Regions from separate parts of the Homo sapiens genome. Here region 1 is linked to region 2. Evidence: fine-mapped expression QTL. A gene starts in region 2. The other region holds a variant in brackets. All regions are shown on one strand. Distances are between the middles of the regions.

Region 1 (9,279 bases), 49 kb after region 2:
AATGTCAATAGGCTGGGCGTGGTGGCTCACACCTATAATCCCAGCACTTTGAGAGACCAAGGTGGAAGGATCACACGAGCCTAGGAATTCACGACCAGCATGGGCAACACAGTGAGACCCTGTCTCTATTTTTTTTTAAATGTCAATAGTGCCTGCTGTGAATTAAGAGTAAGGGTTGCTGATCCCTTGAAAAATCAACGGAAGTTACATACTAGCAGCAAAAATTCTTTTTCTTTGAGAAAGACAGTGTGTTTATTTTAGCTTTTAAAATCAAGAAAAAGGAACAACAAGTCATTATTATTGGTTAAAACAAATACAAAAAAATGTGCTTCCATTTTGGTTTGCTGTTTGGGGTCAGGGCATGGGAAGAGGCAGCAAGTTCCTCATGGCTGGAAAAGGAAATAACTGTGGTGCTGTACGGGCTCCTTAGGGAAGTTGGGCAGGGCTTGCAGTAGAAAGATGGAATCTGTCATCTCCCACCTGTCTCATCTGGCTTCCAAAATATGTGATTTGAAGAATAGGGAAGAGGAGAAGGAGGAAGGGAGGAAGAGAAAGAGAAGTTTACAGTTTTCCCTCTCACTCTATTTTGTAAGAGGCTCCATTCTTAGTAGGGTATCCAGGACAGGGATAACCAGGAGACCAGTACAGTATGAGCTGCTAGATGATTTATGACCAAAGGTCAAATCAGCAAGCAGCTTCCCAGCTCTGCTTCATAGCATGTGATCTCCACACATCCCTGCCTCAGTGTTAGCCCTGGGAGGATGGCTGATCCGGGAACCTGACCTGTGATTGATTCACTCACGGTGAGGCTAGAAGAGGATCCTTCTCAAAGGTGTTGCAAGTGATGAGTGCTCTGTCATCACTGAACTTCAGGCCTATTCCTACACTGGTTCCTCTGGTGTTTTCATCTCTTTCTCTCTGTGACTTATGCCTATATCTGTCCCAGATTGAAAATCCCTAAAGAGCAGGTATCCTATTGGTCCCTGGCTTTTTTGATGTTGATTACAATGATGAAGTGGGTGATGATTATGGCTTTGCTTATGTGCCAAAGCATGTTTAAGAATGTCTCGATACCAGTTTGAGAAATAGCTTTATTTGTGATACTGCAATGATTAATTTAACAAAGATAAACATGTAAGTTGTTGCAAAATGATACGGTTTTCAACAGAAATTAAGGCCATTGGGGCAGAGATAAATTGATAAAAGTTTATTGGAAGCCAAATGTGAGAATTTATCCAGTAAGATACACCAACAAAGTTGGGCATGTTCCAACATCTGTTACAAGTTGGAATGCTTTTATAAGACTGTTTAGGAGAAGGAAGGGGGACTCCTCATATCGGAGTTATCCTTTTCCATTGGAGGGTACAATACAGAGGTTACAATCATTGCCTATGGATGACAGCGTACAGGCTAAAATGTTTTATGCACAAGACAATCAGTAAAAACAAATCAGCAGAGCTTTATGATTTAGAAAGAAAACAATGTCCCTTTCAATGTCAGTATTAATCAGTAACCTGACAATTAATAAATACATAGTTTGAGGAACTCGCAATAGAATTTGAGTGCCTCACGATAAGATTCTTTACTCAGAGACAGGATGTAAGCCATCAGTCTTAAGACCTTTTCCAAGCAGTTCATTTGGAAGCCTGTGAAATGTGTCCTGCAGGTTATCAGGGTCTTTTTGCTGAAAAGTTTATTTATTTTTTCTTTTCTTTTTTTTAGAGACAGGGTCTTGCTCTGTTGCCCAGGCTGGAGTGTAGTGGCATGATCATGGCTCAATGCAGCCTCAACCTCCTGGGCTCAAGTGATCCTCCTGCCTCAGCCTCCCAAGTAGCTGGGACCACAGGTGTGTGCCACCAGGCCAGCTAATTTTTAGTTTTCCTTTTTGTAGAGACGGGGTCTCACTATGTTGCCCAGGTTGGTCTTGAACTTCTGGTCTCACGTGATCCTCCTGCCTCGGTTTCCCAAAGTGCAGGAATTACAGATGTAAGCCACAGTGCCCAACCAAAATTTAATGTTTATTTACTTAAGTTTTTTATTTATTCTGTTTCTTAATTATTTATTCTTTTTTTACAGCTGTATACTATCTATTATGTGGCTTTACTATTGATGGACATTTAGGAGGTTTCCAAACTTCTGCTATAATATACAATGCTATAATGGTAACCTTATAAATACATGGAAGTCGAATGTTTAGGTGAATGAGTGCATGCACAGCTTTACTAGACATTACAACACTTCTCTCTATGGAGGCTTTAACAATGGACTCTCCCACGAGCAATGCATCAGCATTATTTCTTCACATGCTTGCCAGTGGATCATACTACAATCTTTTTGACCTTTGGCAATCTGATAAGTGAAAAGTGGCTCCCAGTATAATTTTAATTTGCATCTCTCATATGAGTGAGGGTGAAGAGCCACTTGTATTTCCTTTTTTGTAAACTGCTATTTCAATTGGGTTGTTATTCCTTTTCTTACTGATTTGTAAGAGTTCTTTATCTACTAAATCAATTAGTCTCTTGTCTTCAAAGCCTGTTATGAATATTTCCCCCCAGTTTCTCATTTATCTTGCCTTGTGTATGATGGTTTTTGTCATGCTCATTTTTTAAGTTTTAGTTTTCAGTTTCCTGTCTTACTAGAAAGGTCTTACCACTCTAAAAATGTGTCCAGTGGTTCTTCTTAATACTTCAGTGGTTTCATTTCTCATACTTACGTCTTTGAGGTATTCGAATTTTGGAAGGATCAAGTTTGCTTTTTCCCAGCTGGATACCTAGGTGCCACAATACTTTGTTAATTAAATCATCTGTCCCTTCCACTGATTTGAAATGGCATTTTCATCATATCTAAATGCCCATGTGTATTTGGGTCTATTTCTTGCCTTTCCATTCTGTTCTATTGATTTGTCTGCCTATTCACCTACCTGTACTTAGTAGTATGGTTTAGCATTTTGGTACAACTTATCAATGATATGATGGTGGCCTTTGGATTATAATATTTAACATTTTATTTTAGCAAAGTGTTTGTGTATTTTCATAATTCTAGATGCCTTATGGTCCTTCTAATATCTTCTCTCCAGAGGACTGTATGCTGTTCTTAAGGACTCTCTGCTTCCTGGACAAGCTCAAGCTAAGGTGAGTACCATCTTCTTAAATGCAAGGATCTTAGATTTGAGTCAAGAAGTGTCTGCTGGGAATGATCTGATCACTCCTTGTTCTGTTGGTCAGGTCCATGGGTTTCCCCAGGGGCAGAAACTGTGTCTTCCTAGTATGTTGCACAATTCCTGGTGCAGAGAAACACTCAGTAAATGTGTGTTGAGGATGAACTGATGAATGAGGACATGAACACCTGCCTGCCACAGAAGTCTTTCATGCATGGGTGTTCCTGGAGGCTCCTCTGGCTTCACAGGAAGGGACAGAACTGGGAAATTATTCCTGGGGTCCTGTCCCAGCTCCTTGTCTATTCTTCTGTCCAAGAGAGGAACACAGAGCGAGGAAGGGCAATGAATCCCACTTACCCTTCTCCCATCTCACACACATCCAGAGGCACGATCCTAGCTCACTTCAACCTTGACCTCTGAGCTCAAGTGATCCTCCCTACTCAGCCTCCCGAGTAGCTAGGATTACAGGCACGCACCACCACACCCAGATAATTTTTTGTAGAGACAGGGTCTCACTAAGTTGCCTAAGCTCAGTCTTGAACTTCTGGCCTCAAGGGATCCCCCTACCTTGGGCTCTTTACCAGCATTTTCTTGTATTTCTCCTCATCTTCAATAGCATTCAACTGAAACATCACCCACGTTCATCATCTCTCCCTTTTCTACACCATGGCCTTGAGTAAAGCAAGTGAGATAGCAAGGGAGATACGAATCAGAACAGCTAACCATAACAGCTGACTCTTATATACTGTTTAGCATATGCCAGTTTCGTTTTCCACCAATGTAATAATTGAACACTTAGAACAAGTGGGGATATATATATATATATATATATATATGTATAACACATATATATATAAAACCATATATTATATATATAATCATACCCATTGTACAAGTGAGAAAACTGAGTTAACAGAGAGGTTTAGTAACTTGCCCAGGGCCGTGGAGCTTTTAAATAGATTCAGCGCTAGAGTCCATGCACTTAAACACCATACCTTTCCTTGTAATATGCATGTGCGTGTGTTAACTTCATTGAAGTAAAATATAAAATGCAGAAAAGTGCACAAGTCGAAAGCATACGACTCAGCAGATTTTCATAAAGTGAGCACACCCATGTACTAGCACCCAGATGAAAGAGCAGAGCACTCTCAGCCCTCCAGGAGTTCCAGTCATCTCCCTCCCCAGTCACTGCCCCCTCCTCCCTAAGGTTAACTGCTCTTCTGACGTCTCTCTCCATTCTTCTGGGAGTTTCCTTCCCATCCTATTTTAATCCACTCATATTTTAAGCATCATGGGGTTTGTGGCTAAAGTTAGAAATATTCTATATATTCCATCTTGCAGTAGAGGTGGCAGTGGTTGGGAGAACACATTTCCTAGAGAAGAGAAACAATTGAGGATGGGGGGTTTAGGGGGTACTTGCTTTAGTTTCCCCACATTCTCTTTGCCAGTAAACCTAAGTAAGCTTCAAACCTTGACTCCATCCCCTCCCCACCAGGACTACATCTCCCAGCAGGCTGTGCTCTGACAGCTCTTGGATTTAAATAGGATTCTGGGCTCTGCTCAGAGTCAGGCTGCTGCTCAGCACCCAGGACGGAGAGGAGCAGAGAAGCAGCAGAAGCAGCCAAGAGCTGGAGCCAGACCAGGAACCTGAGCCAGAGCTGGGGTTGAAGCTGGAGCAGCAGCAAAAGCAACAGCAGCTACAGAAGTTGGAACGATGCTGGTCACCTTGGGACTGCTCACCTCCTTCTTCTCGTTCCTGTATATGGTAGCTCCATCCATCAGGTTTGTCTTAATTCAGCAACTCAAACAATCGTTTACAAAGACCTGCACTGGAAGCCGGTTCTCAGCTGCTGAAAGAAGAGAAAGGGAAGGAGGCTGACAGAGGAGAAAGTCAGGGCAGGAAAAGCAGGAAGGAAGGGGGTGTTGTGGATACCATGGTGGAAAACCAGAAGGAAGCATCTGCGGCCGGGCAGAGGTGGGGCTGAGTTCTGGCCCCACCTGAGCTCTGGGGAGAGTTCTACTGCCAGCGGAAGGCTGCATGGATGACTCTGTCAAGTAGCTCAACAAACACCTTAGGTGGGAGTCCTTGC[G/T]TTTTCATTTTATTCCTTTGGGTGTCTCTGAAGAACTCGGAGACTCTGTCCCTATTCAGGGTGGCCCTGCTGGCTTGTCATGCTGTTAAGTACCAGGTAGTTTGGGAAAGAAACAAACTCTTCTGCCTTTGAGACTACCCTCAATTAATGTTTTGGGATGGCTTTTTTGCTGTGGGATTTCTAGAGGTGTCAAATAAAAGTGTGTTCTGAGTGGAGAATTTTTAAATTTCTCTTTTTTAATTTTTGCTCTGTCACCCCAGGGTGGAGTGCATTGGTGTAGTCATAGGTCACTGCAGCCTTGAACTCTTGGGCTCAAGCAACCCTCCTGCCTCAGCCTCCCAAGTAGTTGGGAATATAGGCAGGTGCCACTACACCCAGCTACTTTTTAAATTTTTTGTGGAGATGGGGGTCTCACTATGTTGCCCAGGCTGGTCTCAAACTCCTGGGCTTAAGCGACCATCCCACGTTGGCCTCCCAAGATGTTGGGATTACAGGCATGAGCCACTGGGCTCAGCCTAAAAAATTTCTTATGATAAAGGAGGTTAAATGGACCTACCAAGGACAGTGTTATTCTAGGTTCTCCATAGAGATCTGGGTTCAAGTCCCACTTCTGCCACCACTATGTGACATGAACCTCCCTGAGCCTCAGTTTTCTCTACTGTAATGTGGAAATAATACTGGAGAAGTTGAGAGGATTAAAATAAATTACATATGGAAAGTGCCTAGACTAGTAATTGGCAGTCAGATGATGTGCAGGAAATGTTAGTTCTGCCCCTCCGTATTCTGTTTTAGGACCTGTGAAGTCAACTTCATGTAAAAGAGTGCTCTCTGCACAGAGGTCTGAACAAAGGAGGTTTTCTCTCTGTTTGCCATCGGCCAGAATGAAATCTCTAATACAATGGCTGAAAGCCTCGGAAATGACCCACTCCCTAAAACTGGAGAGGCAGCCTAAGATCAGTACCTGTGTATGCCATCCCCCAGAGTGCTAAGAGCAGTACCTGTGTGTGCCACCCCCCACAGAGTGCTGTTCATCAGTTACTCATGATGATGGTTACTGAATATTGACTCCGCTAATGTTTATCATGCATATGTTTTGAATGTAGGTTAGAGGGGAAAGCTTTCCTCTGGAACCTCTAGAGATAAGAGCTAGATGTATTTATTATCTAACAAGGAAAGTCTCCATTGGCCCTGACTCCAGCATTTACTCTGTTTGCTAATATGATTATTTGTGGCTTCTGGGCAAGTGATCTTCCCACCTGCACCGATAAACAGGCGACTACCTTGCCCCATGGAAAAATGTTGTCCTATGAAGGTTAGCTTTTATGAGTCTCCTGACTGCAACTTAAAGATACCCTTCTTTGAGGCTGGATAGAGTTTTTTTTTTTTTTTTTAACGTATCTTAGTGTGAGCTCGTGAAGGATGGTACGTGATGCTCTTGTTTCCCTTGCCGATAGGAAGTTCTTTGCTGGTGGAGTGTGTAGAACAAATGTGCAGCTTCCTGGCAAGGTAGTGGTGATCACTGGCGCCAACACGGGCATTGGCAAGGAGACGGCCAGAGAGCTCGCTAGCCGAGGTAAGTGTTTCCCCTTTAGTCTCCAAAGGGCCATGCCTCCCACCCTTCTTCCCACTGGGGCCTCTGTCCATATTGCTTTGTGTTTCCTCCTAGGCTTGGGGGCTCTGACTAGAAATTCAAGGAACCTGGGATTCAAGTCCAACTGTGACACCAACTTACACTGTGGCCTCCAATAAACTGCTTCTTTCCTATTCCCTCTCTATTAAATAAAATAAGGAAAACGATGTCTGTGTATAGCCAAGTCAGTTATTCTAAAAGGAGATACTAAGTGACATTAAATATCAGAATGTAAAACCTGGGAACCAGGTTCCCAGCCTGGGATTAAACTGACAGCAAGAAGACTGAACAGTACTACTGTGAAAAGCCCGAAGTGGCAATATGTTCACTCTACCGTTGAAGGATGGCTGGGAGAATGAATGCTCTGTCCCCCAGTCCCAAGCTCACTTACTATACCTCCTTTATAGCCTAGGATATGAACATACTGCTCTTTTTTTGTCTTGGACCCAGGAGCCCGAGTCTATATTGCCTGCAGAGATGTACTGAAGGGGGAGTCTGCTGCCAGTGAAATCCGAGTGGATACAAAGAACTCCCAGGTGCTGGTGCGGAAATTGGACCTATCCGACACCAAATCTATCCGAGCCTTTGCTGAGGGCTTTCTGGCAGGTGAGGTCCTGATGGGTAGGTAGAAAAGCAGGAAATTGGGTATGGGAGTGGCTGCTCCACCCTAGACCATCTATGGCCCTTACATCAGAACCATCATCCACCCCACTAGACAGGTTCTGCCACATGAACCAGCAGGACAGGGAATTGGCAAGAGGATGGTGGGTAGATAGACTGGGCAGGATCCTTATCATCTTTTCGCCTCAGCAATGGGAATGTCGGAGGTGTTAGCTCCCTGTCTGGGCTTGCACCTTGGCATCAAGGTGTGGCCACAATGCCACTCTCTTCTTTCATCCTGAGAATCAACCTTGTGTGGCCATAGGCATGAGATGAAGTTGTGCTGCTGGCAAGTTCTTCTGGATCTTGGAAAATGACCAGCTTCTACCACGGACTATGAAATCCATGAGGGACATCCTGGGACCATGTCTGGCTTGTGTTACCACTGGATTCCTAGTGCCCAGCAGAGTGCACCTGGCTCAGAGTCGGTAGTTAGTACACATTTGCTGAATAAATGAATGAACAATGTCCAGGAAGATATGAGTAACTAAAATTACTCATTAGAAACCCAGTGACAATGCTTATTGGATGTCACTGAGATAGGTCCAAATGAAGGATAGTTATTGAGTGCTGAGGCAATACCTTGTTTTAAAAGGAAGGGGCAGAGCAAGTGACTCCTATCAAAATGTTACCCCAACAAAGACAACTAATGAACAAAGGGAAAGGGCAATTATGCAGGTCTGTTACAGGCAGCTAGGGGACTCCTTGCTAACCATAGGATCTCTTTGGTTGTGCCCTATAGAGGAAAAGCAGCTCCATATTCTGATCAACAATGCGGGAGTAATGATGTGTCCATATTCCAAGACAGCTGATGGCTTTGAAACCCACCTGGGAGTCAACCACCTGGGTAAGTATCTTTGGGTGACTAAAAAATGAGGTACACCCACTATCTTTTCTTTAGGAAGATGACACTGTGTAAATGTGGAGAATGTCCAGGGGCCTTCATAGAGCCTAGGAATTCCAATAGACTAGACCCATTGGCTTGTTGTTCACTGTACCTCTCCTGATCAGTCTAAAAAAGTGAGATCTTCCTACCCATACCATTAAGAAGCCCCAAATTTCAGGAAATACCAGGGAGAAGAATGTCATTCTTGGATGGGGCAGTGGCAGTACAAGGCTTGCCAGGCAGGGCCAGACCTGGGGTTATGCAGGCATCTGGGCTTGGCTGGAGGGGTCACATCTACATGATGGCCAACCAAGCCATGGGTTGGTCCACGGAGGTAGGCAATCCTTGAGAACTTGAGTACGAGGCAGGGTGGGGTTCAGCGTTCAAGGCAAAGACTTTAGGGAGGAGAGCATGGAGCATGTTTTCTGATCCTAAGCAAATGTTATCTTCCCTGACTGTTCTATCCTTCTGCCTATACACAAGTGTACCTGGGTCCCTAGTTATGCGATCATGGCCAGAGTGGGAGTTGGAAGCCAGCAGGTGGGTCAAGGGCAGAGGTACAAAGTAATATAATTAAGTATGATTGCCTTACTTGTAGTCTAGCTCTGGCTCTTGCTTTGAGGAATCCACAAACTCAGACCAAACTGACCATTAGAGTTACTCATGGCATCAAAATTGGTTCACACCCAGAAGATAGTGAGCTAACACTGAAGTCCTCTTGGCTCCCACATGCTGAGCCTGGGCTGTCATTCCACTTTCAATCTTCCCTGCTGGCTCTCCTCACAGGCCACTTCCTCCTCACCTACCTGCTCCTGGAGCGGCTAAAGGTGTCTGCCCCTGCACGGGTGGTTAATGT
Region 2 (9,359 bases):
CATATATTAACTCATTTACTCCTCACAAAAACCCTGTGAAGTAGATACTATGATTTATCCCCATTTGGCAGGAAAAACTAATTGGGTTAAAGTAACCTGTCCAAGGTCACACTGCTACTAGAAGGTGAATTTAAACTCAGGCAATCTGGCTCTTGAATTCTTGCTGTTAAATATTATACTATATGGCCTCTCAATTCACATACTTCTTCATAATTTTTTTTTTTTTTTTTGAGACGGAGTCTTGCTCTGTCACCCAGGTTGGAGTGCAATGATGTGATGACAGCTCACTAAAACTTCAAACTGCTAGACTCAAGTGATCCTCCTGCCTCAGCCTCCTGAGCAGCTGGGATTACAAGTGAGCAGCACCACACTACTCAGCTTTTTTTTTTTTGTAGAGATAGGTCTCACCATGTTGCCAAGGCTGGTCTCCAACTCTTGGCCTCATGCAATCCTCCTGCCTCAGCCTCCCAAAATGTTGGGATTACAGGCACGAGCCACCACACCTGGCCCCCGTATGTTATTTTTAATGGCAGAAGAAGAAACATTTTGTAAGGCTATATTATGTCATGATCTCTGTTCTACAGGTACCTTTGATATTCTCATCCACAACCCAAACTCTGCTTCTCCTCTTATGTTTCTTACTTAAGTTCATCATTCACCCAGTTGACCAAGTGAAAAAATGCAGACACCCTGGAACCTTTCTCCCTCACTCCTCATATCCATTGAGGCTGGTTAATTTCTGCCTCAAAACCAACTCTTGGGCCGGGAACTGTAGCTCACCCCTGTAACCCCAGCACTTTAAGAGGCTGAGGTGGGTGGATCACTTAAGCCCAGGAATTCGAGAACAGCCTGGATAACATGGGAGACCCTTACTAAAAATACAAAAAATTAGCCAGGCCTGGTGCCATGCACCTGTGGTCCCAGCTACTCGGGAGGCTGAGGTGGGAGGATCACCTGAGCCCGGGAAGCCAAGGCTGCAGTGAGCAGTGATGGTGCCACTGCACTCCAGCCTGGATGACGGGAGACAGGAGTGAGAACCTGTGTCAAACAAATTCCCGTTAGCAAGGTGACTGCCCAAAAGGCTCTTAACACAGTCCCCTGTACCCAGATTCTTGTGCTCTCTCTTGTCCTGTCTAGCCATTAATGCCCTCCTTCTAAAAGAAAATCCACATCAATCAACTGCTTTACGTCCTTTACTGACTTTCCATATCAAGTCCAAATGTCTCAATGTGACACTGAGATCCCCTCACAATCTGGCTGTTTCACCTGCCCCTCTACTACTACTTTCCCACATACATTCTAAGCTCCAGAGTTGGGAGTATTCCATGTTTTACTCCTGTGTTGCCTCTTCGCATTTCCCATCTAGCAAACTCCCATTCAATCCCTTATATTCAGTTTGAAGTTTTTTGAAGCTTCCCCCTCTTCCCCATGCTCAAGTCCAGCCCTTTTTATGGTCTCAGAGAACTTTATTTTAGGATTAATCACACACTTGGTTGTAAGGTTTGTTACCTTTTTTTTTTTCTGAGATAGAGTCTCGCTCTGTCGCCTGCAATCTCTGCCCCCTGGGTTTAATCGATTCTCCTGCCTCAGCCTCCTGAGTAGCTGGGACTACAGGCACATGCCACCACACCCAGCTAATTTTTGTATTTTGAGTAGAGATGGGGTTTCACCATGTTGACCAGGATGGTCTCCATCCGTGACCTTGTGATCCGCCCGCCTAGGCCTCCCAAAGTGATGGGACTACCAGCATGAGCCACCGTGCCCGGCCGTTTGTTTCTTTTTAAGGTAAGAACTCTGGAAGTCCTCAGAGCCTAGACAGTGGCTGATACATAATAATTCTCAGTGTTTATTGAAAAATGACTGAATTCAATTACAGAGCATAAGCTACATGCAAGGACTGTATTATGTACATTATGCTGTGCCTAATAATTCATGATGGGCATTAAAGCTCTGAAAACTTTATGATGTGGTCTCTGAACTAGAAAAAGAGGATTCAGAGATGAGGCACCATGTGTTTGCTTAGATAAATTCAATTTATTCAACAAACATTTATTGAGCAGTGTGAATGAGGTAGTGAATAAGAGGTAAAGTTGTTGGACTTATTATAATTCTAGGGATATGTATATATTTTCTTTACTTATCCATTAAACAACTATGTCTGTTACCAGCAACTTAGAGTATTTTGTGGTTGGGCGCAGTGGCTCACACCTGTAATCCTAGCACTTTGGGAGGCCGTGGCGGGCAGATCACTTGAGGTCAGGAGTTTGAGACCAGCCTGGCCAACATGGTGAAACCCCGTGTCTACTAAAAATACAAAAATTGGCTAGGTGTGGTAGCATGCGCCTGTAATCCCAGCTACTCGGAAGGCTGAGGCATGAGAATCACTTGAACCCAGGAGGTGGAGGTTGCAGTGAGCTGAGATTGTACCACTGCACTCCAGCCTGGGCGACAGAGCAAGACTCTATCTCAAAAAAACAAAAAAAAGAAAGAAAAAAGAAAAGAAATTCACATATTTCTGATTGTCCTCTTTGCAGGATGGAGAAAAAGGCTGGGTAGACAACAAAGGTGAATGTAACTATCTTAGCTTTATGTTGCTATAACAGAATAGCTGAGTCTGGGTAATTTATAAAGAAAATAAATGTATTTCTCAGAGTTCTGGAGGCTGGGAAGCCCAAGGCTGAGAGGGCTGATTCTTTCAAGGGCCTTCTTGCTACCCATGGGTCACCCCATGGCAGAAGATGGAAGGGCAACAGATCAAGAGAGCAGGCAAGCAAGAGAGGGCTGAACTAACCCACTCTCTCAACAACCAAGCCACTCTCAGGATAACAATCTAATCTCTGAGGATGGAGCCCTCATGGTCTAATCATTTCTTATGGGTCCCACCTCTTAATGCGATTAAAATAGCAAATAAATGTCAACATAAGTTTTAGAGGGGGACATTCAAACCATAGTAATAATGAATTCAATTTTCTATTTTTCAAAGCAATGTTCTTTTGCATTATTTAGACTTATAGAAATGGGCATTGCAAAAATTAATTCAGTGCCAGGTTGAAAATGCAGTCTACATTTTTTTTTTTTTTTGGGAGAGTCTTGCTCTGTGGTCCAGGCTAGAGTGCAGTGGTGCGATCTTGGCTCACTGCAACCTCCAGCTCCAGGGCCCAAGTGATCCTCCCACCTCAGCCTCCCCAGGAGCTGGGACTACAGGCATGCACCACCATGCCTGGCTAATTTTTTTATTTTTTGTAGAGATGAGGTTTCACCATGTTGCCCAGGCTGGTCTCAAAATCGTTCAACACAGCAATACTCCTGCCTCAGCTTCCCCAAGTGCTGGGATTACAGGTGTGAGCCACCATGCCTGGCCTGCAGTCTACTTTTTTTTCTTTTCTTTTCTTTTTTTTTTTTTTTTGATACAGAGTCTTGATCTGTTGCCCAGGCTGGAGTTCAGTGGCATGATCTCGGCTCACTGCAACCTCCGCCTCCTGGGTTCAAGCAATTCTGCCTCAGCCTCCTGAGTAGCTGGGACTACAGGCAACTGACACCATGCCCGGCTAATTTTTGTATTTTTAGTAGAGATGGGGTTTCACCATATTGGCCAGGCTGGTCTTGAACTCCTGACCTCAAGTGATCCGCCCGCCTCGGCTTCCCCAAGTGCTGGAATTACAGGTGTGAGCCACCGTACCCTGCCTGCAGTCTACTTTTCAATCACATAAATCAGATCCCACAATGCTTCTGCACAGTATCTTTTAACTGCATCCCATCATATTTAGAAAAAGGCACAAGTCTTTCACCATGGTCCACAAGGCCCTACATGATCTGGCCCTGCTTATCGCTCTCCTTTGCTCACTCCATCCCAAACACATGGAACTTCCTGCTCTTCGCTGAACACACCAAGCTCATTTCTGCTTAAAGGCATTTGCAGTGCTATTCCCTCCTTCTGACACTCACTTCTCCCTGATTTCTGGTTTACTCCCTCACTTCATTTAAGTCTCTGTTCAAACGCCATCTCCTCAGAGAGGACTTTCACAACCGCCCTATTTAAAACTGAAGTCCCAAAGAAGGCGGATCACTTGAGGTCAGGAGTTAGAGATCAGCCTGGCCAACATGGCAAAACCCTGTCTCTACTAAAAATACAAAAATAATTAGCTAGGGGTGGTGGCGCAACTGTAATCCCTATTACTCCAGAGGCTGAGGCAGGAGAATTGCTTCAATCTGGGAAGTGGAGGTTGCAGTGAGCCGAGATCGTGCCACTGCACTCCAGCCTGGGTGACAGAGTGAGACCCTGTCTCAAAAAAAAAAATGATAAATAATAAAATAAAACTGAAGTCCCATCCCCTATTCTTTTACTCTGATTTACTTTCCTGTATTCTTTAACACTGCCTCTTAATAGTTATATATTGTTTATCACCTACCCACTAGAATGGGGATGTTCGTATCTTTTTCACTGTAATTTGCAATATTCACCAGCACCTAGAACGGTGCCTCACAATTCACCAGCACCTAGCACACAGCAGCCTCACAATAAATATATATTAAATACATGAATTTCATTCTCACCAGTCATTCAATTCCTATGACCTTGAGTAATTCGTTGAGCAAACACCCAAGCTCTGACTCTTAAATAAAAGCAATAAAACAAAGTTTTGTCCTTGCCATCAAATTCTATATATCCGGAGGCCAAGAACTATAGCAGCTTTTCCTATGGATTTAGGGCCGGAAAACTCTAGCTCCTCCAGACAGAACTTGTAGCAACCTGAATCATGAAATTAAGGGGTAGTAAACAGTCTCAGCTGTAAAAACGTTCAAAACAAGACCACATCTAAATGCCACAATCAGGTTTTAAAGGCCAGCTCTCTACCCTCCAATAACTGGTATTTACCAACACCCCCAAATTATGACTCCTTTGGGTTTTTAACCCTTTTTCTGTGCTACGGATCCTCTGTCAGTCTGGTGAAAACTAGACCTGTCTTGAGACTAGTGCTTTTAAATGCATAAAACAAACAAAAACAGCTATGAAAGAAACCCACTCTACATTACAGGACCGCAGATGCAAAAGCCCCTCTGCTCTATTTGCCACAGTGAAAAAAGATGAGAAAATGTGGAAGGCCATAGAAGGATCCCAGGGAACTGAATCCCGAGGTCCAATTTACTCTCAGTGGCAGCAGGGAGACCTGGGGCTGGGACAAGCCAGCCCTAGGGGGCGTGTCTGAGGACGCGGAGGGAGGAGACGCGGGCCCGGGTCTGGGAGGAAGGTGGGAGAATCTTCCTTCCAAAGCGCGCAGGGCTGCGCTCCCCACGGCGTGGCCCACCCCCGCCTCACCGGTCCCCGCCGTCCCCAGCAGCCGCTCGGGCACCCCTTGTAGGTCTTCATGGAGGCCGCGGAAGATCTCGTGCAGCTTCTCGAAATGCTCCGAGGAGGCGGCGGAGGAGGCCATGGCGCAGGCCGCGCTGGAGCAGCGGCCACCGAGATTCGGGGCCCTGGGCCCTTTCCTAGCCCGGCGGTCAGCCGCCCAGCCCAGTGGCCATAACGGCGACCGCCGCACCACCGCCGCCCAGGACGAGGCTCTTCCGGAGCCGCGGCAGGGTCCTCTCGAGCCGGAACGCCCACCTTCTCCAGCCAGTGATTGCTGGAGCGCCGGCGCGAAAGCCTGACGAGAAGTCGGGAGACTGCGCGGCCTAGGCGACTCCTGAGGGAGCGGTGCCGCGCCGGGGCGATCGGCAGTCGCGGAACCCGAGAAGTGCCGGGTCCGGGTTGGGGAAAGGCCGCAGCGAAAGGGGCCTAGGGGACCTGCGGGACTGGCAGCGCGGCCGCCTTCCTCCCGGGCCCCGCCGGCCGGCGAGGGGCGGGCGCTGCAGTGCACGCCGGGGGATGTAGTTTGGCTCGGACGAGAGCGTCTCGTCCCGGGGTCGCGCGTTGCTCCGGGTGCCAGGTTCAGCCCGCGCGGCGACAGCGGGCTTCGGCCCGATTTGATGTATGTTTGCGTCTAGACGTCGTCCTCACTGTCATCGCGCTTTGCTTTGCCACCCTGACCCGAATTCCTCGTTTCGCGTCTTGACTGTTAGCTTTCGGCCCTGGAAAGATAGCCGGGCCAGGGGCTCTGCCTGCCGTCGGGAGGTGGAGCACTTTTCTTGGAAGGCCCAGCGGCTCCCCAAGCTTTCAGAAGTGGAACCCGGCCGGGCGAGTGGCTCGCGCCTGTAATCCCAGTACTTTGGGAGGCCGAGGTGGGAGGATTGCTTGAACCCAGTAGTTCGAGACCAGCCTGGGCACAATAGCGAGAGCTCTACCAGAAACCCAAAATAAGAACCGGGCATGGTGGCGCGCACTTTTGGCCCCAGCTACCCCCGGAGGCTGAGGTCCCACCACTGCACTCCAGCTTTGGGAGACCTTGCTCCCAAGTGGAGCGAGATCTTGTCTCCAAAAAAACAAAAAACCCAAAAACCAAAAATTCAAAAGTGGAACCCAGTTAGGATGACCTCGAAATACTCTAGCTGCTAGGCCCGAGTAATTCTCCTCGTGGAGACTAATTCTCCTCCTAGGCTGCCTCGTGCACTTGTTGACAACAGGTGTTTGTCAAGCGTAGGCATTGCGAGGGATCTGGGCATGTTGGTGAATAAAACATTTAATCTCTGCTCCAGGGGAATTTATAATCTGGTGTGGAAGGTGGGCCTGGCTTCATTAGGTCTCATCTGCCACTAAGTGTCACGTGTTAAAAATTACAAGGTCCCTTCTTGCACTCCATGGGTATAAATTCCTGTCTTCACGTCGGGCATGGTGGCTCACGCGTCATCCCAGCACTTTGGGAGGCCGAGGCGGGCGGATCACTTCAGGTCAAGAGTTCAAGACCAGCCTGGCCAACATGGTGAAACCCCCGTCTCTGCTAAAAACACAAAAATTAGCCAAGCGTGGTGGTGGGCGCCTGTAACCCCAGCTACTCGGGAGGCTGAGGCAGGAGAATCGCCTGAACCCGGGAGGCAGTGGTTGCAGTGAGCTGAGATCGTGCCACCACACTCCAGCCTGGGTGACAGAGAAGACCCTATCTCAAAAAATTAAAATAAATTATTATTTTCACCGATTTCACGGTTTGCTCAAGGTGTCTGTTCTCAAATGTTTGCTTGGGAGTTCAATTTTAAACTGCCTACAAATATTAAAAGATGTATGACTGCTCAGGAGAAAATGCTTTGCTAATTTGTATCTCCTGGGCCCTCATTTTTATTAGATCAAGTTCATTGGCTGTTGATTCAACACACTTTGGTTAAGCTCTTAATATGCACTGAGCATAGACATGACCAAGTCTGAGGATAGTCAGTATACTGTGTAAGTCCCACAGCACAATGCTGGGACTTGTCACAGTACAGAAATAAGGGGCAGGTGCAAAAAAAGGATCAATAGCCTGGGGCCGGGTGCTGCGGCTCACACCTGTACCCCAGCACTTTGGGAGGCCAAGGTGGGAGGATCGCTTGAGCCCAGAGTTTGAGGCCAGCCTGGGCAACAAAGCAAGACGCTGTCTCTAATTAAAAAGAAAGGAAAAAAAAATGGCCCGGGATGATCAAGAAATGTGGAAAAAGTGTCTGTGAAGAGTGTCAAAAAAGGTTAAGTAGGAAATGGTGAATGAACAATTAGATTATCACACAACCTAAATTAATAGCATGTGGATTGAGATTACACTGTAGCTAGACTCTGGAACAAATTATTCTTTAGAATGAGAAATCATTGCACAACCATAATAATGAACAGTGTTTTCTTCTTTTGACTGTAATCAAACTTTTAATTCTTAGTTTTTATTCTGGTAAATGAAAACAAAAAATAATCAAAAAGAATTTTTATTTGTCATTGACAGTTCAATATAAATTAAGTAAAACATTAATTCATTTATTCTGCACTATTATCAGAATTTTTCTAATTTTTCCGTAAAATGACCATTTCTAAACATATAGCTTAATGGTCAAAACAAGTGCAATAAAAGATTAATTTACAAGTATCAGAAGTGAAGACTGTGGTCCTATAACTCTTTCCCCCACCAAAGTTAAAATATAATTGTCATTCCAGGAAATCAAAATCTTTTAGAATAGCACACTCCAAACAAGTGATGGGAACACTACTAATTCCTTAGACTTCCTTTGGCAGCATTACTTTTGATAAGAAGTCTCCAAATAAAATACAAAATTTTGGCACAGACATTTTAATCTTGTCAAGACAATGTAAGGAAATGCCCCAAAATATTATTAAATTGACCATAATTACCAATATCAGTCCCTAAGATAATTTTTCTGAATGAAGAATTGTTTTTTTTGTTTGTTTGTTTTTAGGATTTTTTTTTTTTTTTTTTTTTTTTTTTTTGCCACACTGGTTTTTGTTAAGACCTCATCAGTCCTGGGTGCTTGCCCTCAATTCCTCCATAGCTATGTTAGCATATTTAATATCTTTTGCTATTAATCCTTAACTAGTTAATCCTTAAAGGGCTAGTTAATCCTTAACTAGTCCCTTCATTTTGTGCATTATCTTCCAGTATTCTCCTTCTCTTTTTTTACTTCTTCCCTGCTACCCATGTGCTCTTGGTGGGTAGTTACCAACATATACAGAATCTGCTTCCCTTTGCAGCATTTCATTTGCATAAAGACTGGATGGCACTGGTTTGCTCCATCTCTGATTATTGTGGCTGTTTTGAACTTTGTGAAAATACTCCCTTGGCACACATAAACAGGAAGACACACAAAGATATACACAATTTTTAGTAGAGGTGGGGTTTCACCATGTTGGCCAGGCTGGTCTTGAACTACTGACCTCCGGTGATCCACCATGCCTGGGCAAGCCCTGCTCCTGAGCCAGTCTTTGTTATTCATGTTAAGCTGAGGTTGCAGTGTGGCCCTCTTGAAGTGAAGACTGGTTGGTTGGGAGGAACTGAATTGTGAACAAAGAAGCTAGTTCAAATTTGCATAAATCATCCCTGCTATAGCTTAGATTCTCCTAGGTAGTAGTTTCTTTCAGAAGGAAAATGAGCTGTGCAGGTCATATGAGGGTCTTCTTATCCTATTATGATATCTCTAGTAACTCTGGCAGTAACAGAAGCAAAGTAAATCTGGACATGACAGACATTTAGACGAATCTGGCAGTACACTGAGTTTTAACTGGACACCAAGCAGGCAAGGCTGGAAGGTTTTGCTCTCTTTGTGCTAAAGGTTTTGAAAACCTTGAAGGAGAATCATTTTGACAAGAAGTACTGTGTAGTCTGCTGCAGTCTTCTCTTGGGTCCAACTGGCACTGCCTGTTAGTCTATTGGGAGGCCCAGCAGGTCACAACTGACGTCCCACAGCCGCCTTGCTATAGTCTCATTACGAGCTTGGGCAGAGACCCATGCCACATG

Which allele goes with the higher level. Alleles are on the strand shown, and positions count from the first base shown. SD is a standard deviation of normalised expression in the study named.
For the expression in transverse colon of the gene that starts at base 5,575 in region 2, T is the high allele of the variant in region 1 and G is the other (small effect, 0.18 SD a copy in GTEx).

Evidence for each region.
Region 1: its variant is fine-mapped to the expression of VTI1B in transverse colon (GTEx, PIP 0.97).

Annotation. Positions count from the first base shown.
Region 1 is chr14:67,717,772-67,727,050 of GRCh38, forward strand. RDH12 (retinol dehydrogenase 12) reads left to right here. Exons shown (of 9, transcript NM_152443.3): 2 at 3,077-3,131; 3 at 4,653-4,939; 4 at 6,702-6,820; 5 at 7,328-7,483; 6 at 8,280-8,384; 7 at 9,210-9,279. The coding sequence starts at 4,872. It also overlaps a transcript of GPHN not described here. Among named protein-coding and RNA genes, the nearest start is that of RDH12, 21 kb to the left of the region's middle. The variant G/T (reference allele first, on the strand shown) is at 5,248.
Region 2 is chr14:67,669,058-67,678,416 of GRCh38, forward strand. It overlaps VTI1B (vesicle transport through interaction with t-SNAREs 1B), which reads right to left and starts at 5,575. Exons shown (of 6, transcript NM_006370.3): 1 at 5,318-5,575. The coding sequence starts at 5,432. RDH11 (retinol dehydrogenase 11) reads right to left here. Exons shown (of 7, transcript NM_016026.4): 7 at 7,743-9,359. The coding sequence ends at 9,264. It also overlaps a transcript of GPHN not described here. RefSeq lists silencers at 5,250-5,359, 5,460-5,899.